Linked DNA regions of Homo sapiens: regions 2, 3 and 4 are each linked to region 1. Evidence: fine-mapped expression QTL. A gene starts in region 1. Each other region holds a variant in brackets. All regions are shown on one strand. Distances are from middle to middle. Region 1 holds the start of VPS41 (VPS41 subunit of HOPS complex). Region 2 has its middle 63 kb from the start of YAE1-DT. Region 3 overlaps VPS41 (VPS41 subunit of HOPS complex). Region 4 overlaps VPS41 (VPS41 subunit of HOPS complex).

The links. PIP is the estimated chance that this variant, and not a neighbour inherited with it, causes the effect.
Region 2: its variant is the best candidate, but not a certain one, in a credible set for the expression of VPS41 in neutrophils (BLUEPRINT, PIP 0.70).
Region 3: its variant is the best candidate, but not a certain one, in a credible set for the expression of VPS41 in hypothalamus (GTEx, PIP 0.78).
Region 4: its variant is the best candidate, but not a certain one, in a credible set for the expression of VPS41 in pancreas (GTEx, PIP 0.72).

What each region holds. Positions count from the first base shown.
Region 1 is chr7:38,906,228-38,911,227 of GRCh38, reverse strand. It overlaps VPS41 (VPS41 subunit of HOPS complex), which reads left to right and starts at 2,037. Exons shown (of 29, transcript NM_014396.4): 1 at 2,037-2,074. The coding sequence starts at 2,054. RefSeq lists an enhancer at 1,930-2,029.
Region 2 is chr7:39,498,903-39,507,022 of GRCh38, reverse strand. No RefSeq gene overlaps it. Among named protein-coding and RNA genes, the nearest start is that of YAE1-DT, 63 kb to the left of the region's middle. The variant A/C (reference allele first, on the strand shown) is at 4,538.
Region 3 is chr7:38,816,785-38,824,904 of GRCh38, reverse strand. It overlaps VPS41 (VPS41 subunit of HOPS complex), which reads left to right. Exons shown (of 29, transcript NM_014396.4): 6 at 3,640-3,702; 7 at 7,023-7,088. Among named protein-coding and RNA genes, the nearest start is that of VPS41, 88 kb to the left of the region's middle. The variant T/C (reference allele first, on the strand shown) is at 3,572.
Region 4 is chr7:38,783,111-38,791,230 of GRCh38, reverse strand. VPS41 (VPS41 subunit of HOPS complex) reads left to right here. Exons shown (of 29, transcript NM_014396.4): 10 at 1,364-1,430. Among named protein-coding and RNA genes, the nearest start is that of VPS41, 120 kb to the left of the region's middle. The variant T/C (reference allele first, on the strand shown) is at 4,496.

The DNA.
Region 1 (5,000 bases):
ATATCTTTAATAAGACCCATAACACCCTTCTTGAGAAAGAGAATAAACATTCTCATTCCAGAAAAGTAGAAAGGCCAGGAAGGCCCAGAGTGGATGGCCTTCAGCTTTGCTTGCTTGGGCTGCTTGACTTCTCACCAAAATAAAATGGAACCATAAAACAAAAATGACCTTGTGGTTAAGACAGTGGTAATAATCCCTTATTTTCCTTCTTCATCCCAATCTCATCCATTCAGCATAGAAGAGGAGATTGCCCAGTTGGAGAGGCTGTAGTCCTAGAGGTTTATGGGTGGCTGTCACTCATAACAGAAAAGAGAAAATTGGAGTTTGTGAGGAAAGTCAGAAAAGTGGAAGAGCTCATTTTATTTCTCTTTCCCGTGGATACTCGACTGAGGGCTTCCACAGTCTCTTTGGTCTGTATTAAAGTTTTTCTGGGATCTGGAGTTCATCATGAGCAATGTTTGGCCCTGGGCTGCTTTGCAAGAGATTTTAGAAACTCTTGGGTTAGGTTTATACTTGCCCTAGGTTTATACTTAGGGCATTGGGTGCTTGCTTATGGATTTCTTTTTTCTTTTTTCTTTTTTTTCAGATAGGGTCTCACTCTGTTGCCCAGGCTGGAGTGCAGTGGCACCATCAATGCTCACTGCAGCCTTAACCCCCACCTCAGCCTCCTGAGTAGCTGGAACTACAGGCGCACACCATTATGCCCGGCTAATTTTTGGTATTTTTTGTAGAGACAGGGTTTTGCCATGTTGTCCAGGATGGTCTCAAACTCTTGAGCTCATGAAATCTGACTGCCTTGGCCTCCCAAAGTGCTGGGATTACAGGTGAAAGCCACTGCACCTGGCTGCTTATAGACATTTAAATGCCTCAGGGTGGTCTATCCTGTCGGCTGAGTGATTAGCCCACTGGAAGAGGAACCCCAGCAAGGCTTGGAGGAAGAAGATGGAGGTAAGGCTGTTTAGGCCCTGGGGAGAAGACAGGTGTCTCAGAGATGATGTCACCTTGGCTTCTGGGCCATTGAGGAATCATGGGTTGAGCAAGCTACAGACAGAGTACTGAGTCCATGACTTCCTACTGGGTCAGAGTCAATGAGGCACAGGGAGTCAAAAAAGGTACTGAGGCAATCACCACATGCTGCCATTTGCAATGCCCTCTGCTGGTCACCAGCTACTCCAGTGAATGGAAATTGTAAAATGTCTGTCTTTGGACAAGGTGCTGCAGATTCCTGAGGGTTAAGAAACAGAATTCATAATGTTCAGAAACATGGAGAAGGAATCAGTCATTCTGAAGGCTGGAAGTAATACAGTGGTTGTGCAGATTTTGACCAAGGACAACTTCATATTGTGTCTTCACTTGAACATTTACCTATTGAATATCCTCAACAAAAGTTTAACAATTAATTTATTAAACAACAGAGATTTTTTTTAAATCAATGTTCATATGACAGGAGAAGACAAAGTAGCAAGCAAAAATAATGATATTATTTGTTGGCGTATAAATTTTCTCTGACTCTCCACTGCAAAGACTGCTTTATATTCACTGAATATACTTAAAAAAGAGAGAGAAAAAAGGACAAGAACACTTTTAGAGTAAGCAGCATTTGGCAATCACAGAGACTTTGGCATCAGGCAGGGCTGAATTCTATTACTAGTTCTGCCTCTTACTAGCTGCATGACCTCTGAGCTACGGTATTCTCCCCTATAAATGGGGATGATAGTAGGAATTGCTGTGAGGATTAAATGAGATAATTTATGCAAAGCTATAAACCCAGGGCATGACATAGTAAGTGCTTAATAAACACTAGAATAACTAGAGAAACAAGAACAACAATAAAATAAGCTATAGTATTAGCAATGGTTATGTTCACATCCTTCAAAGCAGAATTCCATTGAGTTTGGAGAATTGGCAGCAGAAATGAACCCTAGCAGGTCCGTCCCCTAGAAGAGATTTCCAGGCTCAGATGAAGCTAAAACTACATTTCCCAGAAGGCCCTGGGCCAAGTGTGTGGTTTCCTCTTATTTCCGGGTCTGTCAGGTGACTCTCCCGTGGCGCCATGGCGGAAGCAGAGGAGCAGGTAAAGGGTGCAGGTGGTAGTTGAGGGCACAGGGATATAGAGACTAGGGTGGGCTGTTTGGGGAGGGTGGAGTGGAGTGGGTGGAGGTGCGGAGCTGCTGGAATAGCGCAAGGCAGGTCCGCGGCAGGGCGGGGTGGGATGGCGAAAGTTGGTTTCGGGGAGCAGAGAGGATGCCAGCCCCGGGAGGGCACCTAGGGAAAGCGCTCTGACACACCCCCGCGTTCGGGCTGCCTTTCCTCGGGCCCCATCCCTGTGGCCTTTGCCCAGGGAAATTTTGGCATGAAGGCAGGCCCGGCTACCTCAGGGACTGACTGCCTGTGGGAGGAGGAAGAGAGGCCGGGTGACTGAAATTTAAGTTGCTTTCCACTTGAAGTAGGACAATAAGAACTAGGAGAGAGTAGACGATGAGTTTTGTTTTGTATCTATTGGAGTTAGGTACAGAGCTGGAGCACTGTTGCGGTGCAGCAGGGATTAAATGCATCCGTTCTGGAGCAAAAATGCCTGGGGTCCAAGTGCTGGTTCCTTTTCTTACCCAATGTGCTACTTTGAGCTACTTATTTAACTTTCCAGTGTGAGATGGGGGTAATAATAAGGCCGTCCTCAGAGGGTGGTTTAAGATGGAGAGAGGAGTTTATACACAAAGTTAGAGTACTTAGAACTGTTGGGCTTAGTAAAAATTAAATGGGATTATTTGTTGCTGGTAGTATCCAGTCAACAACTGGCAACGTGGCACTGAAGTTTAGGGTAGAAATTGGTGATGGGAATATGAATTATTTTCATATAGCAGTAGTGGTAATCACACATTTTATGAAATGACGAAGTAAAATAAAAAAGACAAAAAAGAGAAGCAGACCAAAAAAGAGGCTAGAACTTGGGGGAGATAACTTAAGTTTCCATTTCCAGTGTTATTTCAGTTGGATACTGTTTTTCTTCACAAGTTAACAGGGCTGTCAGTTGCAGTCATTGTCTCTAAACAGTGACTTGATGATGGGCTGTTTAGTATCATAAGAGTCATTTACCTAGTTCAATAATTTTTACTATTTTCAACATACTTCATTTGTTTTTACTTCATAGTGAAAATTTGTTCTGTATATATTTTATATATGCCAATAATTGAGACGTTTGACTAGGTAGAAATTTGGTTTGGCTGGTCCTTGTGATAACAAGATAACAAAGTCTCTTATCTAACACTAGAGACTCCTATTTCCATTCTAGCAGTTCAAAGGAAAACACTCATTAAGAACATATCATTTCATGACTGCCATTGCTCCTTTGAATAAGGGTGAGATTGTTTTTCACATTGTGCATCTTTATTTCATGTTGAAATGTTTGTTTTATGGTTTGATTTGAAAGCAAAAAACTGAGTTTCATATGTTCTTAGATATAGTGGAATAGAAATGGAGAGAGTTGCTCCTAGAAAAACCATTGTTTTTTCTTCCATTGAAAAAAACCTATGAAATATTTACCACTGTTTAGTGCAGAAGAAGAATTTAACAAAGTTGTCTGATATAAAAATGACACATACAAAATTAGGGATATAATAATGTTTCACATTTGTACATTATTTTCTAGTTTTAAAAACCCTTCCATATTGCATTTGGTCTTCCCAAAAGAATTCTATGAGGTAAATGTTTACTCTCATACATGGGTGAAACACCTCTGATATTCTAGACTTTCCAGGGGCTTCTAATCTTATTCAGAGGAAAAGCCACAGCCATTACGGTAGCCTGGTTGTCCCACAGGACCTTGACCCAGCTGCCCTTAGCCACCTTTTCTTGACCTCATTTTTCCCACTACTCTCCTTCCCTTCTGTGACTCTGCATCAGCTGTACTGGCTCTCTTAGTCTTCAAAAAGCCAGGCAGGTTCCTATCTCAGGGCCTCTTTGCTCATGCTGTTCCTTTTTGAGGAACCCTGATATTTACAGGCTTCCTCATTTCCTTCATGTCTTTGTCCAAGTGTTCTTTTTCATTGCGACCTTCCCTGACCATGCTTTGAAACCTTCCTGCATTATTTTTCCCTATAATGTGCATCACCGTTTGACATACTGTATTATAAAATTTGTTTTTTTTTTTTTCCCTGTATATTTCTGTGTACCTCTTACCACAGAGCTTGGAACATCCTGACAAGGATTTGTTCACTGCTGTATGTCCAATACCTAGAATATTGCTTGTTACTTAATAAATTTGTGTTAAATGATTGACTTTTACTGATAAACAAATTGAAATTCAGGCAACTTGAGTAACGTGCTCAGGCTTATATCTATAATATAATAAATCTCCAGTCCTCTGTCTCCATAGCTCATGACTTTTCACTAGAATACCCTACCTTTTTAAAATATATGTAAGAACCTAAATCTAAATAGTTTTTTTACTTTATGAAGTAGAATTAGCCCTTTCCATTTTAATGATTTTCCCTCAAGCCACCATTCCACTTTGATGCTTTAACAGCCAATATGTAGTTGGAGTGGGCATTCTCCTCTCCAGTGGTGTCAGTATCTTAAAAAGACTAGTCGTGGACCAGGCACAATGGCCCATACCTGTAATCCCAGCACTTTGGGAGGCCAAGGTGGGGCGATTGTTTGAGCCCAGGAGTTCGAGACGAGCCTGGGCAACATAGCAAAACCCTATCTCTACAAAAATTACAAAAATTAGCCAGGCATGGTGGTGTGTAGTCCCAGCTACTCGGGAGGCTGAGGTGGGAGGATTGCTTGAGTCAAGAGGGTCGGGGCAGCAGTGAGCCATGATCGTGCCACTGCACTTCAGTCTGGGCAACAGAGCAAGACCCTGTTTAAAAAAAAAACGAAAAACAAACAAAAAAAAACCCAGCAGTCTGTTGTAAATGGCTGAAAGACACATTCACAAATTGTTCAGTTCTTTTTTTTAAAAGAAAGTAAGTAATTGTACCTAATCTTATCCTTTATAGATT
Region 2 (8,120 bases), 590 kb before region 1:
TTCTTTCTGAAGGAGTTTTGCTCTTGTTGCCCAGGCTGGAGTGCAATGGCACGATCTTGGCTCGCTGCAACCTTTGCCTCCCAGGTTCAAGTGATTCTCTTGCCTCAGCCTCCATAGTAGCTGGGACTACAGGCGTGCACCACCACATTTGGTTAATATTTTTGTATTTTTAGTAGAGGCAGGGTTTCACCATGTAGGTCAGGCTGGTCTCGAACTCCTGACCTCAAGTGATCCACCCACCTCGTCTCCCAAAGTGCTGAGATTACAGGTGTGAGCCACTGCTCCCAGCCTATCATTTCATGCAGAGCATTCAACTGGAAAAACCCAGTAATATATCTTATATTATAGACTGTCCTAATTGTTCACCTAAAGGTCTGAACACCTTTTTTATTTAATCATATTAAACCAGGTTCTCTTTAGAAGACTAAAAAAAAGAAGAAGGCAGTTCTACCAAATTGTTTCAGGCATCTCTCTCCTCTTCTGCTATGTGAGTATAATCATGCTAAGCTTATTTCTACTTTAAGCACATTACCCTAGCTGTTCCTTTTTCCTAGGGAACTTTTCTCCCAGATATTTGCAAGACTAGCCTTCTCCTGTCACGTAGATGTCAGCTTTCAAATCCCGTCCTCAGAAATGTCTTTCCTGTTTCTAATCTGCAGTGGCCTTGTCCCCCCACTCCCAGCTCTCTTGTTTCACCATCTTCTGTTTTCTTTGTGGCACCATGTCTATCAGAAAACATATTCTATCTGATAATTCTGGTTTACTGCTTATGTATTTATTGTCTGTGTTCCTTCACTAGAACACAAGTTTTGTATTTATCACTCTAGGCTTTTATTGTCAACCATGTTCGCAGGCTTTAGTGATAGGGTAGGTGGATTGGAGACGGGGAAGGAAAAGGGGAGGGGAACAAAAACCAAAACTGCCTGGACAGGGCAGATGCCAAGAACACCTGGGGCATGGAATTAGGAAAGGGAGGTTTGTAGGTTTGTAGAGGAAACACTTCTGAAGGGCCACAAGATGTGTGACAATAAGAGGGGAAAAGAACAACACTTTTAAAGAAGTGCTATTGGGTGTGTTTATGTTCCTTGAGAGATTCAGGAAAAGACGAAAGTACTCTTTAATTATTTTGATTGCAGTAATGTGTATATATGACCATGATGCCCTATGTAAAAAGTAGCCTGGATTTCACAATCCAAGAGGTAGGCCTTGTTAGAACACCGTCCTCTGCTGAAATTCTGGTTTTGTGTATCAGTCTCCATAAAGGTAGTCCCTAGAATAATACAGAATTACTTTTGGGTCTCTATAACTAAGGATTCTGGAACAGCCCCTCACTCTGCTGCCAGTGGGGCTAGACAGTACTCAGCACATAATGAGAACTGAAGAAATGTTATCTCCTAGGGAGACTGCAGTGTTCATGAGCCAGGCAGAAGGAAGATGGTATAGATGGTGCTGGGGAGGCAAACTGAGGCTCTCCCCCAATCGTAGGTCAATGGGGGAAATACTGGGGGGGAAAGAGAGGGAGGGAGGGACAGGGAGAGGGGGAGAGAGAGAGAGAGAGGGAGAGAGAGAGAGAGAGAGAGAGAGAGAGAGAGAGAGAGGTGGCTCTTATTTGAATAAAGTATTATTATTGGACTTGATCTTTTGGGAGAATACAGTGAGAAGAGAACATTCTAGAAAATGGCTGCTTGTTGAAATAGGGGCAGAAAGACCTGGTACTACTCGTTCCCCAACCTTTTAACTTGTAAAGAGTCATGGGTTAATATGCTGCCCTAGGCATCGTAAGTGTACCCAGGGCATTTTGGTAGTTAAGTGTCAAGTAAACTGTCTGAAGGTCCGCAAATGGGATATTTAGAATGCCTGACTGAACAGATAGACCTCTGCCCAAGAGCCTGATGATGAGTAAGCAGCCACTTTGGCAGATGGCCAGGGCAAAGGGTTCCAAGTCTGAGTACCACTGATGAGAATGTCTCATCATTTGAGATTTGAGATTAAAACTCTAAAGACTCAAACTTCTTGGTGCACCTGTTTGCATCCCTGGTGGGGACAGGCCTGGAGGAGAGGGGGTCTGTCTAACACACTTAAGTCCCAGCCACCTTTCCAAGTGGTCTTGACCAAGGACAGCACACGCATTCTTGACATGTTCACTTGTGGACCACCTTGGTGTAAGGAAATCAGGACTGGGGGGACAAACTCGGATATAGCTTTCAAGATATGATCAGGCATGAAAATGAAAGTAACATGTTGAATAGGTGAAAGAAAATTTTATTTTAAATTCTTTTTGAATAATAGCACATTCTCAAGAAATCCCTAGAATTAAGTATTTTTGTCAATTATTTAGTAAGTGCCTAATTTGCTCTTGCTAGGGAAGAAAATTACATGGTTGTTCCTAAATTATTAAACAATATTTTCATGGCATTGACAGAGCAAGTAGCAAGGTATTGACCAGTCACCCTGCTATAGGAAAACTCTTGGGCAGCTCTGTTTTATCTTGCTAGGTGAAATTGAAGAGAAAAAGTAATTAACTCCCATGAGCTACATCTGCAAACTCTGATGGAAAGTCACACATAAAGTTCACTGTCTTTTATAAGACAAAGTAGAAAAGCTCACAAACTAATTCTTTTAAAAAATGCCTTAAATGAACTTCAAGGCTGAAATCTTATTATCATCCAAAGTTTCATTGGTCTGGCTTTGGAGAGGAAATGTAGTTTGGGGGTGAGATTTACTCAAGCTTTTCTTTATGGAATTTCATAATCCAGCCAATCTTCTTTTCTTGCTTTTGTAATTCATCTGTATATCCCTTTCAACACTTAGAACAGTGAATGAGTGAATGGACTTTTTCTTAAGGTTGACTTCTTGCTACATCCGTAAAGATGACTCTGGGGAGAAAAGAAAGGGAGAAATTGGAGTGAAAGATAAATACTAAAAATAGCTGTCTTTTGATTCAATGAATTGGGTTTAGACTGCTGTATGCTTCGTCCAGTTGCTCTTCTCTGGGCCAGGGACCTGCAATGATCGAGGAATGGGGAGATATCATATTTTGGGAGAACTTTTAATCACAAACTCAAAAGTGAATTTCATCCTTCTTGGTATTGAGGGGCTGCCAGAAATTAACTTTTTCTTTTCCTTCCTTCCTTCCTTCCTTCCTTCCTTCCTTCCTTCCTTTCTTTCTTTCTTTCTTTCTTTCTTTCTTTCTTTCTTTCTTTCTTTCTTTCTTTCTTTCTCTCTCCTTCCTTCCTTTCCTTCTTTCCTTCCTTCCTTTCTTTTCTCTTTTCTTTTCTTTTCTCTTCCTTTCTTTCTTTCCCTCTCTCTCTCTCTCTCTCTCTCTCTCTCTCTTTCATTTTTGAGACAGAGTCTCACTCTGTTGCCGAGGCTGGAATGCAGTGGCACAGTCTTGGCTCACTGCAACCTCCACCTCCCAGGTTCAAGCGATTCTCATGCCTCAGCCTCCTGAGTAGCTGAGACTACAGGCGCCCATGACCATGCCTGGCTAACTTTTGTATTTTTAGTGGATGGGGTTTTACCATGTTGATCAGGCTGGTCTTGAACTCCTGACCTCAAGTGATCCACTCACCTCAGACTCCAAAAGTGCTGAGATTACTGGTGTGAGCCACCACACCTGGCCCAGAAACATTATTTAGATACAGTTTATAAAATGAAAGAACATTTATTAGGAAAAAGATGATTCTTTTATGGGCCACCTACTCAGTGCCCTTAATGTGCTAGGTACTCATGTCATGGATTTTTCACATCAACCCTTTGAATGATGATTATTTCATCCCCAGTTGATAAGGAATTTGGTACTTCAAGAGGTCAAATAACTCGTTCCAACTTTCACAGGAAGGGCAGAGAATGGCAGCTGGGATCTGGACCCATTTATCTTTAACATCAAACCATGCCGTGCTCACTTAGAAGCGCCTGGTAACAGAAGTGGTCACTCCATTGGAGTTGCTCACACTATAGTTGGAAAGACAAGGAGTAGGCACATGGAGAAGGGTCCAGAGTGCAGGGGGAGGGTTAAGATGCATTGAGCACCTGTTATGAAGCAGTGCTAAAGACCATCTTTGGAAAAAGGCCTCTCTCTCAGATGGCTAATGGGCCAGTAAGTTAAGCTGAGCAAGTTTAAGTAATTTTTCCAAGGGTCTCCCAATCAGAGCTTGATTCAGGTTCAGTCTGATGTCAAATCTTATATCTCCTGAGATGCTTCATGCTTCAACTTACAGCAAAGACCTCCAAAAAATATTGTCAAGGAACAATGTTTGTCTGTGTGCCTGGTAAGTGCTGTTGAGGTGGAAAGAAGGGAAAGGACATTGAGTCAAGTTAATTAGGAAAAGTAGAACTGTGTGAGCCAAAGTGGAGGCGGGAGCGATATAGCCGGGGTTGAACTGAGCTCTGACGCCAACGGCATGGCTATCCTTTCCATAGCCGAGAAAGCATCTCAGAAGGAGAGAGAGAGAGAGAGAGAGAGAGAGAGAGCGTGTGTGTGTGTGTGTATATAGTGATTTGTGCACCTAGAGTGGACTCTGTGGCAGCTCCCCTC[A/C]CAGCTCTCTAGTGGCCTCCATGACCCCCAGCCTTTTGAGTGTGACTGGGAAGCCAGAGGACAAAGAAAAGGTGGCAGGAGAGCAGGTTCTCCTCATGGAGCTCTGGGCTGTCTGCAATTCTGCCTGTGCTAACCCTCTAGGGGTTACATCTCTTTAACCCCTCACTAAACAATGCTAAGGACAAAACATTCCAGACCAGAAAATGGCCCACCTGGGGGATTATGGCTGCCTTACTAAGTTTTACTGCCTCCCTGTGGATTCTGTTATTTGGGCAGAAGTTGGTCATTCAAAAGATTGAATACAAGTGATTCAAATAAGTCAGTGATTTTTCAGAGGGTACATATGGATATTACTTAAGAGTGGGTAAGACCTTTCTCTAGAAACCATCTTTTCATCTTCCAGTCCTAAAACTTCCACATTTTCACTGTATAGTTTGGCGAGAAGAATAACCAAGAGCTCTATGCTTTCAGAATGTTTAAGGAGACTCTTTTTTTTTTTTTTTTTCTGAGACAGAGTTTTGCTCTGTCACCCAGGCTGGAGTGCAATGGCGCAATCTTGGCTCACTGCAACCTCTGCCTCCCAGGTTCAAGTGATTCTCCTGCCTCAGCCTCCCAAGTAGCTGGGATTACAGGTGTCTGCCATCATGCACAGCTAATTTTTGTATTTTAGTAGAGACAGGATTTCACCATGTTGGCCAGGCTGGTCTTGAACTCCTGACCTCAGGTGATCCACCCACCTCAGCCTCCAAAAGTGCGCTATAACAGGTGTGAGCCACTGAACCCAGCCTAAGGAGACTCTTTTGAATTAGTTGCAGCTGCATCTCGAATATCTTCTTTCCCTTTCAACAGAGTTTCAAGGCTGGTTTGGTTCAGGTTTATCTGAGTATAAACAAAGGATATGCACAGTCACTGTTATTTAAGCTCTGCCATGAAACATTATTCATCAGTCAAACATTGTGGCATCAAGTTGCCTTAGAGTTGAAAAGGTCAGAGGGGACCTAATCATCATTTTCAGTAATCATTTTACCATTCACACATTTGGAGATACCACAGCACTTACTTCAAATGCTTCTTCCTCAACGCATAAATTACCACATCCCCAACTTGTGTGTACACACACACACACACGTGTGTGTGTTCTTCAATGTGTGTGCAAAAGAGAATACGAGGAGTTCTGAGAACATGATCTGAAAATCTTTCCAATTGTCTATGATTTAGGAAAGTCTTGTACTTTGTAGAAGATCCTAAAATTCTGAGCTCATGGAAGACTTGGCCAAAGGAGCCAAGTTTCTGGATTTCTTATCTGGCATTCCAGTCCCTATGTTCTGCTGTGCAAAGGCTGGGTGTGTTTCTAGTCTATGAGATTGTGATGTTCAAAAATAGAAATAAGAGAGAGAGATTTTCAGCAACTGAGCATTAATATTTAAGATCCTTGTGGGAAAGGGGAAATGTTATGGTGTAGTCAATTATAACGCCAACTTCTTCAATCTCTATTTACTTGGGAAAGGTTTCAGAGATGTGGTCTTAATTCCAGTTGAAACTGATCTTTTCATGTTTAGAGGGGACTGGATATTGACAGTTTTCTTTCCATTTGTTCAGAAGTTTTATTTTTGGCTTATGATAATCCTAGCGTATCAGTAACCATGCAAAAGAATAAACATGATTATTATGTGTTACTAGAACATATTGGTGTTTAATGTGACTTCGATACTTTCTTCTTCCCATTTACAAGCAACTGTGAGAAAACCTTCTGATAGAACTGTTTAGTCATTTACTTTATTTATTTCATTTCACAATAATTCACACATTTTTAAAGAGCGAAGATTCATGCTACTGTAATTGCACCCTGGGGCCACTAATTCGGGTGCCTAAAGGCTCAGGCTGGTCTGGCAAATTGAAGTCTTGAAATTACATGCCTTATGTTGGCTGATATGCCATCTTTGGTTGTTGGCATCTGTTTTCTTCTGTAAGGTTCGTTTTCCCCCCTGAACATGGAATATTGTCAACACAGACTATAGTCCAGAGGGCCAACTGTTAAGCTGGGATAACAAGGAGTTCTCTGGAGTACCAGTGCCTCTGCAGTAATGCTGAAGCTTTTCTTTTTTAAATGCTGGTTTTGAGACAATCTCCTGCCATCTTCATTTACTCCGAGTGAAGGATTCTAATGAAGTCACCATGAGTAATGAGGCTCAGTCCCGTAAGTCCTCTCCTGAGGGGACTGTTTCTGCCACCTGGTTGTTAGCTGTGTGATTTCTGTCTTTGTCTTTGGTATTTGCAGGGAAAGGGCTCTGAGAAGGAGGTGAGCTTCACCTTGGCAAATTCTCTCCCAGCGAAATGAATACAAACAGCTGATGTCGTGACCCCCCTCTGGTTCCACACATTCAGCATGTTTGACACTGTTAGCAGCCATGGTGCAGGCCCAGAGGACATCAGCAAGTAGATTAAAATGCCCTTTTCTCCCAGGAGATGAGGCCTGTGTCTCAGTGGGCAGAGGCAGGGACAGCCTGGGAAGCTTTGATGGAGATGCTGCAGAACTCGCCTTTCAGGGTGTGTCTGTAGATATATGAATTATTAATATATTAAGTGGGTTTCGTCTTCCTTTAATTTCCCCCTCCCAAATTCCAAAAAGCAAACAAGGAATTTGTGCTCACTTGCAAAAAGGCCAGATAACTTGGTGTTGGAAAACAACTTCTTTTTCTTCTGTTAGTTTTTGCAATGATGAGCTTATTGAGGAGACTGGAGGAGGAGAAACAGGAGAGAGACATGTGTGTCTTTTAGAGCAGTTGGTGGGTGTGTGGAAGTGGAGAGGAGAGAGAAGTCTGAATCTAGGTGCCAGAACTCCAAGGTTGACAAGGTTTTCTGTGCCTGAGTAAAATAGTAGGACCACGTGCCTTCAAGAGACTGCAGGCTTGGACCACGAGACCATCAGTGGTGACTGGAATAGATAGAAGAAGAGAAGGTGTGTGGCCGGGTGCAGTGGCTCATGCCTGTAATCCCAGCACTTTGGGAGGCCGAGGCAGGTAGATTGCTTGAGGTCAGGAGTTCGAGACCAGCCTGGCCAACATGGTGAAACCCCATGTCTACTAAAAACACAAAAATTAGCCAGGAACGGTGGTGTGTGCCTTTGGTCCCAGCTACTCAGGAGACTGAGGTAGGAGAATCGCTTGAACCCGGGAGGTGGAGGTTGCAGTGAGCTGAGATTGTGCTACTGCCCTCCAGCCTGGGTGACAGAGGGAGACTCTGTCTCAAAAAATAAATAAATAAAATAAATAAATAAGTAAATAATGAGAAGGGTGAAGGGTGTCCCTGAACCATTTGTTCTGTCAAAGCTCCTGGGGCCTTTTCATCATTGTGGGGAGGAAGAAACACTCCTAATGATGACTGATAGCTTCAGAATCAGATTGAGTTTGATTTAAAGGAGATAAAGAGAGTGACTTTTACATGTGTTAAAGTCTGTGGAATCACATTCATCCCTGCTGCCCATCTCACTGCACAAGGAGAGGCCCTGAAGACCTGTGACATTAGCCCAACTGAAGAGCTGTAACTTGCTTCTTCCAAAAAGTTTTTAGTTGAAGAAGCCTAA
Region 3 (8,120 bases), 88 kb after region 1:
TCTGTCAGTCTTTTTCTACAGGCTTATGCATCATTTGTTTACATCTCATATACTTTTCTGCATAATAGAAATCACTTTTTTTCTAAAATTTCTTTATTCCATCTATAAGGCAGAAGGAAGTTTATCCATTTGAATGAATAATCAGCTTCATTTAATTTCAATTTCTGTCATAGAGTGTCCTTAATTCAAAGTCTGATATTCATGTTCTTTTCAGTTTGGCACATATTTAAGGCTTTTGAATGTTTTTTTGTTGTTGTTCTATTCTACTCTTCTTACACTTTAGGTAAAAAGATATCTTTCTTTTTTGCAAATTTCAGTTTATCCTATATAAAGATAGCATGTAGAAGAATAGGATTTAGAAAATCCGGGTTCTGGTTCTAACTCTTCTGCTTATGATTTTTATGACCTTAGGCAAGTCATTTTTCTATAGAATCATCAGTTCAACAGGCATAATGGTATTTGCTCTTAGACCTAGCAGTTTTGCTATGAGGACCAAATGAGGAACAGCAAAACATTGCCAATTGTGCAGACTTCAAAAATATCATTTCGCCTCACCAGAAAGTTTGAGTTTGTTTGTTCAGGGTGGGATTTGGCCATTAGTTTCCAGGAATTTTAACTGTACAGGTGTGTTTGAGAACCACTAAGGTAAAGCATGTTGACACATTTAGGGATGTAAGTTAGTAGCAGTAGTATGAGATTTAGCACAAGACCATGCAGTACATGACCTTATTGTACTGAAAAGAAATAGATTAAGTTAGGAGAAGTTCAGCTTGCTAGTTGAGCAGGTATTCATACTGAGGTAGCTTCATCAAGGTGGCCATTTGTTGATTCACTCCATTAAGATTCCCATGATTCAGGAACCTCCTTCTTTTCACCTGATTTTCTTAGATTTGTTGGGGTCCATCAAGTTAAACTTCCCCAGGTAAAGTGAAACCCTGAATGCAGTGCTTTCCTTTTGTGCTTTTTAGCCATTATTTTATAAGATGTTTGTTATATTATCCTATGCCTATATATTTCCATAAAAGTAATGACTTTATACCCTCTGAACAATGAGCAGCAGGTGATGGGGGGGACATATGTGTATTTGCCATGTGAAGAATACATTTCAAGGCCAGCCTCAGGAAAAATGAAATTCCTTCTGTTTTACATTATATTATCTCCTGTTTGTAGAACCCAAATAACAAACTTGGCACAAGTATATAAAAACAGTAGTTACAAAATGAGTGGATGGTCCCCAAAACTTTAACTTTTAATGCATGAATCTATTTCCCAAAATTATAACATAAGTGAATTTCCTGCTTGGGGCTTGAAAGAATGAACCACTCAGAACTTACCAAGATTAAAATAAGAAGAAATTGAAAGTTTAAGTAGTCCTATATTTATTTTTCAAATAGAATTTATAATTGGAAACCTTTTCACAAAGAAACTATCTTAGTCCATTTGTGTTGCCATAACAAAATACCTTAGACTGGGTAGTTTATAAATAACAGAAATTTATTTCTCACAGTTCTGAAGGCTGGGAAGTCTGATTTCAAGGTGCCAGCATTTGGCATCTGGTGAGGGCTGCTCTCCTTGCTTCCAAGATGGCGCCTTGTTATTGTAACTTCACATGGCAGAAGGGATGAATTATGTGTCCCTGTGTGGCAGAAGGCAGAAGAGCAAAAGGACTAGCTAGTCACCTCAAGCTATAGCTAGTTACCCCAAGCTTTCTTATAAGGGCACCAATCTCACCTATGAGGGCTCCACCTTCATAATTTAATCACTCACTAAAGGCCCTACTTCTTAATACCATCACCTTGGAGGTTAGGTTTCAACACAGTGAATTTGGGGAGAACACATACATTCAGACCATAGCAAAGCCATGAGACCTAGATGGCTTCACCAGTGAATTCCTACAAAAGTTAAAGAAGAATAATACCACTATACTAGAGACTAGAAAGACAGTGAACACATTCCAATGTTGGGAAATAGTTCTCATTGGCTCTAGTACTATTTGTTAGCTCCAAGCATTTGAGATCTCATGGAATTCTTATGCTGAGAGTATAAATAACCATCACTTTGGAGGTTAGGTTTCAACGTAATGAATTTGGGGGAACACAAACATTCAAACTTTCTCATGGTGAGAGCATAATTAATTTGAAACCACTTTGTGAAATGGTTTGCCTATTAAATGTGAACATGCACATAACCTATGACTCAGCAATTCCATTCCAAGGTATACACCCTTCATGAATATGTATATAAGTCCACCAAAAGATTTGCAAAGCATGTTCTTAGCAGCAGTATTCATGATAGCCCCAATCTGGAAACAACCTAAGTGGTCATCAATGGAAGATGGATATGTGAATTGTGATATATTCATACATGAAATAATACCCAGCAGTGGCAAAGAAGCAACCTCTACTATATCCAACAGTGTGGCTAAATCTCACAAAGAAAATGTTAAATAATGAATGAAATAAATCAGTGAAATAGAATATGATTCCTTACTTACAAAATTCTAACACCAGCACAACTTATCCATGCCAGTAGCTTTGAGGGTAGTGATTAGTTGGAGGGTGTTATTTACTGGAAAGGGAAACAAAGGAGCTTATTGGCTTCTATTTCTTGATCAGAGTGATGGTTACACGGATATGTTCGTGTCATAAAAATTCATCAAACTATAAATTTATGATTTGTATTTTTTATAGCATGTGTTTTATATTTCAGTTTTGTTTTTGTTTTGTTGTTGTTAAGTAAAGCACTCAGAAAATATACTAAGTATGAATAAAGTAGCCTGGAACAACTTTAAGGGAGACACTGATAAGCAGGAACTTAAATCTTTCATTTCTGTATTCTCAGTAGATTTAGCATAAGTTGTGAGTGAAGTGTGGTTCACCTAATCTCTTACCACACTGATCTACATGGTTGGTTTATTTTATATATATGAGAGACACTAAAAAAAAATCTCCCCTTTCCTTTAAGGGATGAAAAAATAGTTCCTTTAGGGACAGCTTATGGAAGTTTATAAAAGAATAGTAATAACTTGTTCAAATCTGTTTCATTGTTTTAATGGCATGCATTTAATACAATTTGTGGTGATTGAAGGGAACTCTATCCATGGAATGCTTATGAAAGCTTAATTGCAGCAAAGTACCCTCAACCTGATGGGATTTTCTTTTTTCTTTTTTCTTTTTCTTTTTCTTTTTTTTTTTTTTTGAGACGGAGTCTCACTCTGTCACCCATGCTGGAGTGCAGTGGCGCAATCTCGGCTCTCTGCAACCTCTGCCTCCCAGGTTCAAGCAATTCTCCTATCATCCTCCTGAGTAGCTGGGACTACAGATGCACGCCACCATGCCTGGCTAATTTTCATATTTTTAGTAGAGATGGGGTTTCACCATATTGGTCAGGGTGGTCTTCAACTCCTGACCTTAGGTGATCCACCCACCTCGGCCTCTGCCTCTCAAAGTGCTGGGATTACAGGCGTGAGCCACCGTACGTGGCTGATGGGATTGTTTTCATTAGATATTTAATAGAGGTCACGGGGCCTTAAAATTATTAAATATTCTACTTTTCTTATTGATAGTATGTG[T/C]TCATACTGACTCAGTAGCCTTCTCTATTGCTGTCATGGTGAGCTGATACAATCCATTTTCTTTGTAGGTGCAGGTATTTGGACTGTATTCTGGAGAAGAATTTCACGAGACTTTTGACTGTCCCATTAAAGTAAGTATTCAGCAAGTTTTACTTTTTCTAAGGGTTTTCTCAAGTAAGGCAATATGGATTACAGTAATTTGAACATTACCACTTCTGTATTAATTTTGTCAGTAAGTGTCTGTTCAACACTTCAGATGTACTGGATACTATTTAGATGCTGTGAAAGAAGACAGAATGTGTATTTTGTGACTGTGATCTCAGTCTGTCTTCAGGGGTATTTTATTATAGTGAGTGAGATCACTCACACACACATACACACACACACGCACGCACACACACACACGATCTGTGGTAAAAGACTCAAAGAGGTAGGAATAATATTAAGCGTTCCAAAGCTGAAAGGAATCACTTTTAGCTGTTCTTGTCAGTGATGGCTTCATTGGTGGAGTGATGTTTAACTTGGCTTTAATAAATGGAGAAGGACTGATGAGAGAAGCTGGCTTTCCATGTGGAAGAACAACATAATAGAAATGGAGAGGCTAGAAAGTTCACCTTGTGTTCAGGAAATGGCAAATTGTCCAATTTATTTGGTACATAAAAGACTGATTTCACAAGAGAATGTGAAGGAAGATTGGGCTGGCTTTACATTCAGGCTGAAGAATTTGGACTCCATTTGGTAGATAACTAGAAATTACTAAATATTTAAGAACAAAGTAAATAAACTGAACTAAGCTTTAAGAAAATTAATATGGTGACTGTATACAGTATTGATTGAAGGACAGATAAGAGTCAAGAGGACTAGTTTTAGATAAAAATTATGGTAGTTGAGGTGTCTATTATAGTTGTTGAAGGAAGAGGTCATTTATTTTTTTCACCTGTTTATTCAAACATTTATTGACCAGCAGGTAAAGGAGAGATAGGGTCTGATGTATGTTTTAAAAAGTTGAATTTGCCAGAGTGGAGGGTGATTTAAACAGGAGAGTGATTGGGGACAAAAGACAATTTAGAAGCCTAATATAATACTCTAGGCAGGGCATTACAGGATCTCAATGAAAAGAATGATAGTGAGTGTTCAAGATGGAAAGGATGAAATTTATTTGGACAGCCTGTGCTAAATAGACTTAGCGAGCCTTAGTGATGGCTTGGATGAGGGTGATGAAAGACGGAAGAGCTCAGGGTCAGTTCAGGTTCTCGCTTTGGGGATGGGGTGTGGGATGCCATCAGTTGCAGTAGGGTATGTTTGAGTAAGGACATGGCTAGGCTAGTTTGGTCCTGAGTTTAGATAAGTGTAGTACATCAGGTGGGGACGTTACGGAGGTTTTAGAAACATGAATATGGGCCTCAGGATGGAGATTGGCCCTTAAACACAAACGTGATAACCATAGTTGAATAAGGTGAAGCTATTTTTAAAGATATTATCCAATTTAGAGCTGTAGAGTGAGAAGAGAAGACTGATGGTGAAATTCTGGAACACTCTAACTTGAATACTCAGGCTGTGGAAGAAAAAACAGCAAAGGAGTCTAAGAAGAAGCAGTTGGAGGGACTGTAAGGAATCCCGAAGAGTGGTGTCAGAGAAGCCAGGGGAGAGAGGGTTTCTACAAGGAGGAAGTGGTCAGCAGTGTCGAATGCAGTGTGGAGATTAAATAGGGGGAAGGACTGAAACAAGGGCATTCTATGTGGTGATTTTGAAGTTACTGGTGACCTTGCTGAGGACTCTTTTCAGAGCAGGAGGGTCACTATACATGAAGGAATAAATTGGAGATGAGGAAGTAGAAACAATCAGCAGAGACTCTTCTTTAAAGAAATTTAGTAATAAAGAAGAGAGATCATCTGGTAGAGAGAGGGGCCGTGTCCTGGGAAGGTTTTTGCCGACCATGTTTTGGTTCATGGCAAAAACCAGTGAAGAGGAAAAGATTAAAAATAAAGAGAATGCTTCTTGGAGCAGCACTAAGCAATGAGATCAACAGCTTAGGTAGGGAAGATAATCTTGGAAGAGTCCTAGACCCTCTGCCTGTGAAACAGGCATGAAGGAAGTGGACTGAGCCTAGCTATTGCAAGTTAGACAGTGAAGGAGGAGCACTTGTGGGCAATGACCCTGATGGCTTTATTTTCTTACATCTGAAGGGAAGAAAAGGGTAACATAATGTGTTTGAGGAGCAGAGGAGATGTTTGGAATCAGTCCCTGATCTACAGTTATGCATTACGAGAGAGCTAGGGGGAGAGTTTAAGAATGTGAAACAATAGAATGTGTGAATCCTTCACTACTGGTATTGAGGATGGATTAGGAAAGTGTTGAAGGGAAGAAGGGCTAACCTGGGAGGTAGGAGTGTTTAGAGCAATGAAGGATCATATGCTAATCCTTAAAAATGACATTGTAGGAAGAGGAATCTATTCCATTGTAGGAGGGAAATGTGTCAATTAATACAAGTATAAAATATGTTTAATTGAAGGTATATAGAAGTAAAATTGTGTGAGATTTTGTGTGTGTGTTTACCTAAAAAAAATTCTCTATGTTAAATTAGAAAAACACAAAATTAGTTAAGTTGGTGATTTCATGGGTGGTTTGGGGATAAAGAGAGAAGGAGGTGGAGTCTATGCAAGCTTACAGCCACAACAGATGAGCTCCAAAGATGGAGGTGCACTGAGTGGAGCCACGAGGGCTTTTGTTTTCATCCCCTCCCCAAGATGTTAATGATGTTATGTAATCATAAAGCCCTTGCAAATGAAGGAAACAGTAACAAGGGTGGTGGAGCAACCTTAAGAGAAACCTGGGTAGCAAGGGGCTGGAGAAAGATTGGATGAGTGGGAAGCAGATGAGAATCAGGGGAACAGGTTGTATCTAAAAAGCTAAGTCCTGAACGGTTAGCTCTTTGGGCCTGTAGCTCTGTTCTCTCTCCATTGATGGGGTCTTGGTGTAAGTGGGCTAAACGTCTGGGAGGCTGCGTTGCCACTTGGTGCCGTCTATCATTGAGAGTCATCTTGGACAAGGAGTTAGTTGGCTTCTTTCTGTTTTTTTTTTTTTGTTTTGTTTTCTGTAAATTGTATCCAGTTAGAAACAGTTGTGACATCTTGCTACCTTGACCAACCTCCCTTGACCTCCCTTGCTGCCTCTATACAGGTGACATCCACTTATAGGGGTCCTCAGCCAGAAACTAGAACTGACTTATCCTACTCTTTGAGCTTTGACCTGGCTTCAGAGAAGAAATCTTTTCACGTAAGAAGAAAACTCAGATGTCATCAGTTGTTGTAAAATATGATTTGAATATATTACTTCCTACCAAGGTTTCAGGATAATTTTTAGATCATGCTGCTTGAACTGTGTCAGGGGTTTTCATTCTGTGCATTGGCCATGACTCCTAAACCAGAGTTGGGTTCTGTTTCTCTTGTAGATTATTGCTGTGCACCCACATTTCGTGAGATCCAGTTGCAAGCAGTTTGTGACCGGAGGGAAGAAGGTAAGTGCTGTGTGTCTCTACCTTGATATGTAGCCTTGAGGGGTGTTGTGTGCTTACTCTGTAATTTATCCTTAATGTTTTTATGTCTGGCTATTCATTAGGAGAAATTCGAGAAAGACAAATGTAATGAAATCTGATGATCATCATCTCTTGGGGGAGTTGTGGCTTCAGTGTTTCTCACTACATTGCTTTTTTTGTTGAGACGGAGTCTTGCTCTGTCGCCCAGGATGGAGTGCAGTGGCGTGATCTTGGCTCACTGCAGCCTCCGCCTCCTGGGTTCAAGTGGTTCTCCTGCATCAGCCTCACGAGTAGCTGGGATTACGGATGCCCACTATCGTGCCTGGCTAATTTTTGTATTTTTAGTAGAGTTGGGGTTTTGCCATGTCTCTACTAAAGACATGGCCTGGCTGGTCTTGAACTCTTGACCTCAGGTGATCTGCTCTCCTCGGCCTCCCAAAGCCCTGGGATGACAGGCGTGAGCCACTGCGCCCAGCCTCTTGCTACATTTCTTTGAAGTAGATATAGGACAAGAAAATAAGAGAGCTGTTACATCTAGAGCTTTGAAACATTGCCCCTCCCACAAAAAAGAGGCAGCATTTAAAAATAACAAAAGCACACTTAAACTACTGATTTTTTTTTTCCGATTTTTTTTTTCCTTGTAGAAAATCTCTTGCGGGCCTTGATAAACTTTTAGAGCAGTTATGGCTACTCTTCGCTGACATGTTCATGGCACATTTTATTATCTCAGTGCTATTTAAAAAATAAGAGATTGGACTGGGCATAATGGTGGCTCACTCCTATGATTCCAACATTTTGGGAGGCCAAGGTGGGAGGATCACTTGAGGCTGGGAGTTTGAAACCAGCCTGGGCAACGAGTGAGACCGACTCTACAAAAAAATGAAGAAATTAGCTGCGTGTGGTGGTATGCCTCTAGTCCTAGCTATTGAAGAGGCTGAGGTGGGAGGATCACTTGAACCTAGGAGTTTGAGGTTGCAGTGAGCTATAATTGTGCCATTGCACTCCAGCCTGGGT
Region 4 (8,120 bases), 120 kb after region 1:
TGGATAACTTATAAGCTCAAAAGTCTACCAGAAGGGAAGAAAATTGGAGAAGTGGACAGGCAGTTATATGAAACGGACAAGAGACAAATGGCAAAAAGCAATCAAGGAAGAAGACAGCCGGTCACTTCTATGTGGAGGCTTCTACCTCTGCAGCCATGGGTTCAAGCCCCGCCTGAGGGAAAGTGGGCACTCTGCATTCACTGAGTCGCTGCAGTGTTGCTGGGCAGCAACTCAGTATACTACGTATATTAAAAAACAAAACCTTACAAAAGTTTATGTACCCATTGGTATCAATTCTACTTCTAGGAATTTATCCTAAGTAAACAAAAGTCCTAAAGTTTTATATATAAGTATGTTGATTGCACTATTGCTTACAATAGATATAAAAACAAAAAAATATGCCCCCAAAGGGGGTTGATTAAGTATAGTACATTCATGTAATAAAAGGCAATCATCCCTCAGTGCCTGTGGGGAATTGGTTCCAGGACCCCTGTGGATCCTGGGCTCCTCTGATGCTTATATAAATGATGTAACATTTGCATATATAAAATGATGCGGTATTTGCATATAACCTATGCACATCCTCCTGTATACTTTAAATCATCTGTAGATTACTTATAACACCTGATACAATGCCTACACATCACTGCATTTGCATAGACTTAATGAAGTAGTTGGTGTACAGCAAGGTCAAGTTTTGCTTTTTGGAATTTTGTAGAATTTTTTTTTTTCCTGAATATTTCTGATCCTTGTTTGGTTAAATCCATGAATGTAGAATTCATGGATGCAAAACCCATGGATATGGAGGGCTCACTGTATTATAACAACTTTACAGAATTATGTTGTAGAAGAATCTTTAAATAACATATTGAATTACTTGTATTAAATTGTTAGGTTAATAAAAGTAGCTTTCATAAAAAAGATTATTAATGGTGTTCTCTTTGTGCTGGAACAATGACTAATGCTTGTTTTCCCCTTTGAGTTTTTCTATATTTTAGAATTTTCCATACCATAGTTACAGTTAATGGTAGCAGCTATAAAAGAACACTATGTAAAAGAAAAAGGAAAAATCCCTGATCACTGACAGAAGTTGTACTTGGATTAGTACTTGACTTCAGGTTCAGTCTCACCAGGAAAGCTGAACTTATGTGAATCAGGCTTTATTGAGGAATAAAGTTGGTGAATATAAATAGTGATTGCTATATGTCATTTACATTAATTTCTGTCATTTAAGTCATAGGGTAGATTGTACTCCATCTGCAGTGCTACAAGGTTAATTTAACAAAGATACCATATACTGAATAAAATGTTATGAAGAATTTTCCATCAAATGAATAAAATAACCTGCGAACTTATTTTCCAGGTGTGCTCAGTGAAGGAACGGCATGCCAGTGAAATGAGGGATTTGCCAAGTCGATATGTTGAAATAGGTATGGCTCCAACACTTGCCTTCTGTGGATGTAAAACTTCATTCAAAATTTTCGTCTTCATTAATCTCACCCAGACTGCCATAGTCTTTTGCCTGGATCCCTGCAGCAGCCTCCTAACTGGTTTATCTTCTTCCACTGTGAATTACTGTCATCTGCTGTCCCCACTGCTGTCAAAATACAGATCAGATCTTGTCATCATCCTTCAGTTCCTCCACATCGTTCTCAGAGTGCAGATGGAACTCCTCAGTGGATCACGGGGATCTGTGTTGGCCCCTACCCACCTCTCCAGCTGTAGCTTATGCCAAGCTTCTCCTTGGTCTCTGTGCTGCAGCCACACTGACCTTTTACCTGTCCATGCCTCTCTTTCCCCTTGTCTAGCACAGTATTTGGCTAGAGTGTTGCTTTCCAGGGAAAGCACTGGGAAAGCCACTGGACCTCCCTGACTGAGTCAGGTCTTCCCATTTTAGGCACTACAGCACTGCAGGCCTCCTCCCCTTTCTAGCACTTGTCACGGGTTCCAGTGATCCTGTGATTATTTGATACATTTCTGTCTTTTCTACCTGACTGTCACCTCCTTTTGAGCACACACAGGGTCTGTTTTTGCTCACCATTTGTATCTTGAGGACCTGGCACAATACTTGCACATAGAAGGTGCTTAATATTGAGTTGAATGAATCAGTGACTCTGGGAAACAGCTGTTCAGGAGAAGTATGCCCTGGATGATGTACCATGACTTTTATAATTTAGTTTGAAAAAATTAATCTGAGAAAAAAAATTGCCATATTATGAGTCAGCTGAAAAGTTCATTTGCCCATTTGCTTGGTGGATGGGTAATATCAATTTGATGGGTTATTCTGCCAAGGTGAAGTTGAAATAAATTATTTGCACATGATTGTATTTCTGTAAATAGAAAGACATACATTACCCACATGACTAATGTGGTTATAACATTTAAATCTGGGCTATTTTGTACTTGAAGTCAGAAGTTGGTGGTAGAGTTTTAATCTTTTTTTTTAACTTTAGGAGTATAACTACATAGTTCAGATTGCTTAGTGTATGGACAGTAGGTATATGAAGAATGTAGCAGTGCTGAGAAAAACTGAGGACCAAGATAAGAGACAAGATTTATGACTAGACTATATAGATAATTGTTTCAATATCTTTTTCTTCTTTCCTTGCCTACTAGAAAATAAAAAGAAAAACAAAAGCCTCTCAACATCTCAATGCAATGTCCTGAGAGATTAGTATTTGGATATTTTTAATTGCCAGAGAGGTATAAAAATGTAGCAATTGTCATCTTCTTTCCTTAGCTGATACTTATTGATCATGTACTAGGTGGAGGGCATTGTGCTGCTTACATAAACTGCAGTAACTCACTTTATCCTCACAGGAACTCTTTAAGTGCAGGTAGTTTGCTTTTTATTCTATAGATGAAGAAATTGAGGCTTAGGAGGTAAATGACTTGTCCAGGATCTTACTACTATAGCGTTAAAAATGGATAGAATCTAACTCTACAGAACCACCAGAAAGCTTCCAGGGAGGCAAGGAAGTTTGCTGAAGTGTGTGATCTTGATGAGGTTACTTAACCTTCTTGACCATCCTTTTCTCACCTGTTAAATGGAGGTGATAATATCTATCTTTTAGGATGGGTGTGGGAATTAGACATGGCATAAGAAATGTGCCTAACATGGTACTTGGCACACAGTAGATGCTCACTAAACCATGATGGTTATTATCACTATGCAGACTTTCATCCCAACTCTGTGACTGCTGATAGCTGGCTCAGTGGTGGCCCTATTAGCCTAGAACCCTGGGATCACATTATTGCAGTGTGGTTCATCTGTACTGTAATTTACGTGAAATAGACCATATGTGGATACTAACAGTATCACATTACTGACATTTTACTACTATGGTTAATGGTTAAGTACCATTTTTTCCCCTCTTAAGAGTAAACCTTTAAGAATATAAGCCATTTCCACAGCAGGAGGCAAAATAGTTTGGATAAGAGTCCTTAAGTAGGATAACAGAAAGGGAAATATTAGGAGGTCTGGATTACAATTTCCTTTAGCCCTGAATAGTGTGAGCCACTGTTCTTTGGTAAATGAGGTGAAAATGGCATTAAGATTAAAGAAATACGTATGGCTGTACATTTCTTAGAAGCCAATTGTTTATAACTCTTTCTGTTACAACTCAGACTCTCAAAAATAGCACGAAAGTTATTCCTATCACATAGGCTGTTGATTTATTCTGTTAAATGAAAAATAATAATAATATAATGAAGATTAAGCTTCTTGGCCAATCACCAACACATGAAGAGATTCTCTATACATAGGGCTTTTGGGACATCATATTTTCTTTCAAATTGCATTGTTAAAAATAGATTATGGTTTGTGCCTAGCATCCATGTTTTAACTTCACTTGCATCTCTTGTATTCTCACAGGACTCCCTGAGCCTCTGGTACTTTTCACCAAAGTCTTCCATGATCTCTGTGGTATGGTAGTTGGAGAGCTGACATCATGATGTTGGGAAATGAAACCAATGTTTGTGTGTCATTTTCTGGGAGTTTTCTGCCAGGGGTAGTTGACTTACATGCAAGGAATTAATGATTGACTTCTTGGTCTTAATTTCATGTGGAATTTTGTTTAATTGAGATTAAACAACTATATGAGAATCTATATAGAATGACAAGTCAGGAAGAAAGGGAAGAGAAAAGAAGGGAAATCTTTTTTACTTTCAGTATTGTCTGTATCTTCATTGATCATATACTGTGGTCTTAGAATTTAGCACATCATTCTTTTTTCAGTCTTTTAATTGACTGAAAAAACAGTGACCTGAAAATTGGTGATCTGTTTTCATAGTGGAGGAGAGTTGTGAGATAATTCTTTCCTAGATCTAAGTATCTCTCTTTATCCACCTGTTACCATTTTGATTCAGCTATATGGGTTACAGTAGTGGGATCTTTGTGTGTGTGTGCCCAGGAGTGATGTGGTTTCATCTCTTAGTCTGAGTCTCAATAGAAATGATGACAGCTGGCATTCTTCAAGGTGTTTTTACTTGAGGA[T/C]CTAGGTATGTATGGTTTTCTGTTCTGTTATAGATAGTTCAGTATAAATTTCTGTAATAATCTGTTCTGCATTGAATTTTTTTTCTAACATTTTGTTATGAAATTTTCATTAAAGAAAAGAACTTTGTAGTGAATAGAACCTCCAGGATTCTGCAGTTAAGATTTTACTATATTTGCTTTATTACGTATCTGTTCATCTATTCATTCCTCCTTTTGGGAGGGATGTAACAACTCTTTCCCCGCTCAGTAGTGTAGACTCAGGTTTTTGTTGTTAGGAGTGGAATTAATGAAGTTTCTCCATAATAAGTAATGGTAAGAAATCTGAAGCACCTGAAGTAACAAATATATATTGTTCCTTATATAACAACCACCACCAAGCACAGTGCTGAATACATTGCAAACAGAAGGTCATCTAATCTTCCCAGTATGCGAGTGGGTAGCGGCTACTATCCCCATGGTGTAAGTGAAGAAGCTGATGTTCAGAAGGGTTAGGTAACCTGCTCAAGATTATTCATAAACAAGGCAGTTTTTGCACTTAGGTGTGCCTAGCCGTAAAGTTGTTGCTTGTAATCATGGTGTCACACAGTGCTTCCCATGTTTCCTCTACCCAGCCCCTGGCCTTTGTTTACAGAGTCTTGTTCCAGACATTCAGATACAGACCACTGCAGAAATGCTCTAGAATCTGAAGACCCTTTTTCTATATCAGTGATGATAGCTGCTCACCTTTTCTAGGAACTGCCAGATGAAATGGAAATGCAGTAGATTTGTTTTTTTATTTTGGTTCAGAGAAATATCTCATTTGGAGACTTAGAAATTATATTTTCACTTGCTTTATCCTGAGATTGAGAGCTTTTCTTCATTGCTTCTCCTCCACATTTTTAGATAATTTATAGAACCTGATTGCCTTGGGTGACCTTTGGAATTGTTTCTAAGGAAAGGGAACCAAACTTAGATTATGCTTCTTTCAGCCCTTTTAAAAAGAAGAAAAGCCCTTGTTTGCTATTTTTTAGTGTTTAGCTTAAGTTTAGTTGATGCAACAAGGTAGTTTTATATTTATAAAATAAAGTGTAACATTTGGTTTGAACCTTGTGATTAGCAGGTCATTGGCAATGCCTTTCCTTTTCTTTTGTCTAAGCAATGTGCTGTAACATACTCACTAAATATTCCTCATCAGTGCTGTTTCAGGAGACTAAAATTTGGTAGATGAGATAATCCTATCAGCTTAGTGTTGTCATTTAATTGACAATAGTTTGCTGAATATTGATTATAAAATACGGAATTAAATTGCAAACTAAATTTGTTTTCAGCAGTTTTTTATCTGTGTGTACTGTTCGGCTCCTGTCTGATTTGAATGTTTTTGTTATTTTGTCCATTAGCCATTCTTTTCAATTTCACTTCATGTAGCAGATCTTCTCCATAATTTGCTGATGTAAAGCATTGTGAAGTCAGTTTTACTTTAATGTGTCTGCTTCTTAGCACAGCCTGAAGCTGTTGAAGTGCCGTTATTTCCAAATGTATTTTCAGTGATAAGTGGTCATGCTGACAGAATGTCTAAACTTATTGAAAAGTCTGTGGGTATTACATCCAGTTGATTATAAAATACTAATATCTGGTGACTAAGGGGCCAGAATCTCTTGGGAATAAGACACTATCTATCATAAAGGGCCCTCAATGCATTTTCATAAATGAATATAAGACAATGAAGGGTAATTGTTCTTATTTGTAAATTGCTTGACACACATTTTTGTTTGTTTCTTTAAGAATCATAGAAGCTAAGATCTATGGGATGTCACCTTATTTAACTTCAATAAAGAAATCTGGGTAGCATTTAGCTAATGGACATTTGGGGACCAATAAGGGAATAAGAAATGGGGGAAAAGAGGCAGTGCAAGTTCTGTGTACTGCAGCGCTTTAGCCCTTGCAGCAGCACTGCAAATTCAAGAGAGGGGCTGGGGCACCCTGACTGCATGCAGCAGAATCACCAGAGAGCCCTCACTTCTGTTCTTGCCAACTGCAGTGTGCTTTGAATCTAAGCATCTCTGTATTCTTATATTCTTCCCCTTCCCCTCCTCCTTCCCCCTAACTCCCCCCCTCCTTCTTTCGATATAGGGTCTTGCTCTTTGCCCAGGCTTTAGTGCAGTGGCATAATCACGCCTTACTGCAACCTCAGCCTCCTGGGCCAAAGCGATCCTCCCACCTCAGCCTTCTAAGTAGCTGGGACTACAGGCGTGCACCACCATGCCTGGCTAATTTTTTAATTTTTTGTAAAGATGTGGTCTCCTTTTGTTGCCCATGCTGGTATCAAACTGGGCTCAAGAAATCCTCCCACCTTGGCCTCCCAACATGCTGGGATTACAGGCGTGAGCCACCATACCCGGCCCTGACTTACATTTTCTAGAGTGACTTATGGTTGGGAAAAATAGGACTTCAGATTCCTACTTCTCTTATCTTCCACTTAAGTGACTTTAGTCAAGTTACTTAACCCCTCTGAGCCTCCTTCCCTCTCTAAAATAACCATAGGGTGGTTGTGGTGAAAAGCAATATTGTATGTAAATATTTAGCATACTGCCTCACAGCATAGTAATGTTCATTAAATGGGAGCTATTATTAATATTAGTATTATATTTAGTTACAGTGAGAGAGAAAAATAGTGGTTTCTTTTAAAATCAGAAGATCTGAAAATTGTGTTTTATAAAATTTGTAATTTAAAGACAATTTGGGGAAGATGTAAATAAGGGTTTACTGAATGATTCCGAGGAGATTGATAATGTTTTATAATTGCATTTCTCAATAAAATGTATCTATAAACATATATGACAGAGGTACAAGTAATAAAAATATTGATTTAATGTTGTCTCATAGGTTTGAATACACAGATAAGAAGTGAGATAACCTAGTTGGGAATTATTGGAGGATGGTTTTTTACTTTAAACAAATTTTGATTTTTATCCTTTGTAATCTAATATCCATTAGGGTTTTAAACAGTTTTTTTTTTAAATGAAACGAAGAGGTTGTTTTCTCTCATGTTATCCACACCATTTCTGGCTTAAGGGGCTTATGGTCATGATTATTGCTGCTGTTTCCACCCTCATCTGTACCTCCTCAGAAGCTAAATTTTCTTGCGCTGTGCTATTTTTTGTTTTACACCTGTTCCTGTTTTTGCACATAGCATGTGGTATTTTAATTATCTCTTTTTTTTTTTGAGACAGAGTTTCGCTCTGTTGCCTAGGCTGGAGTACAGTGGCACAATCTCGGCTCACTGTAATCGCTGCCTCCCAGGTTCAAGCAATTCTCTGCCTCAGCCTCCCAAGTAGCTGGGATTACAGGCGCCTGCCACCACGCTTGGCTAATTTTTGTATTTTTAGTAGAGATGGGGTTTCACCTTCTTGGCCAGGCTGGTCTTGAGCTCCTGACCTTGTGATCCACCTGCCTTGGCCTCCCAAAGTGCTGGGATTACAAGCGTGAGCCACCACACCTGGCCTAATTATTTCTTTAAATATTCAGACTCACAATCTCCTTTAAGTTAGGGTCAGGTCTTAGTCATCTTGATGCATCTAGAAGACTGTCTCGTGTAATTGATACTCAGTTACTCTTTTTTCTTTTTTTTTGAGGCAGAGTCTCGCTC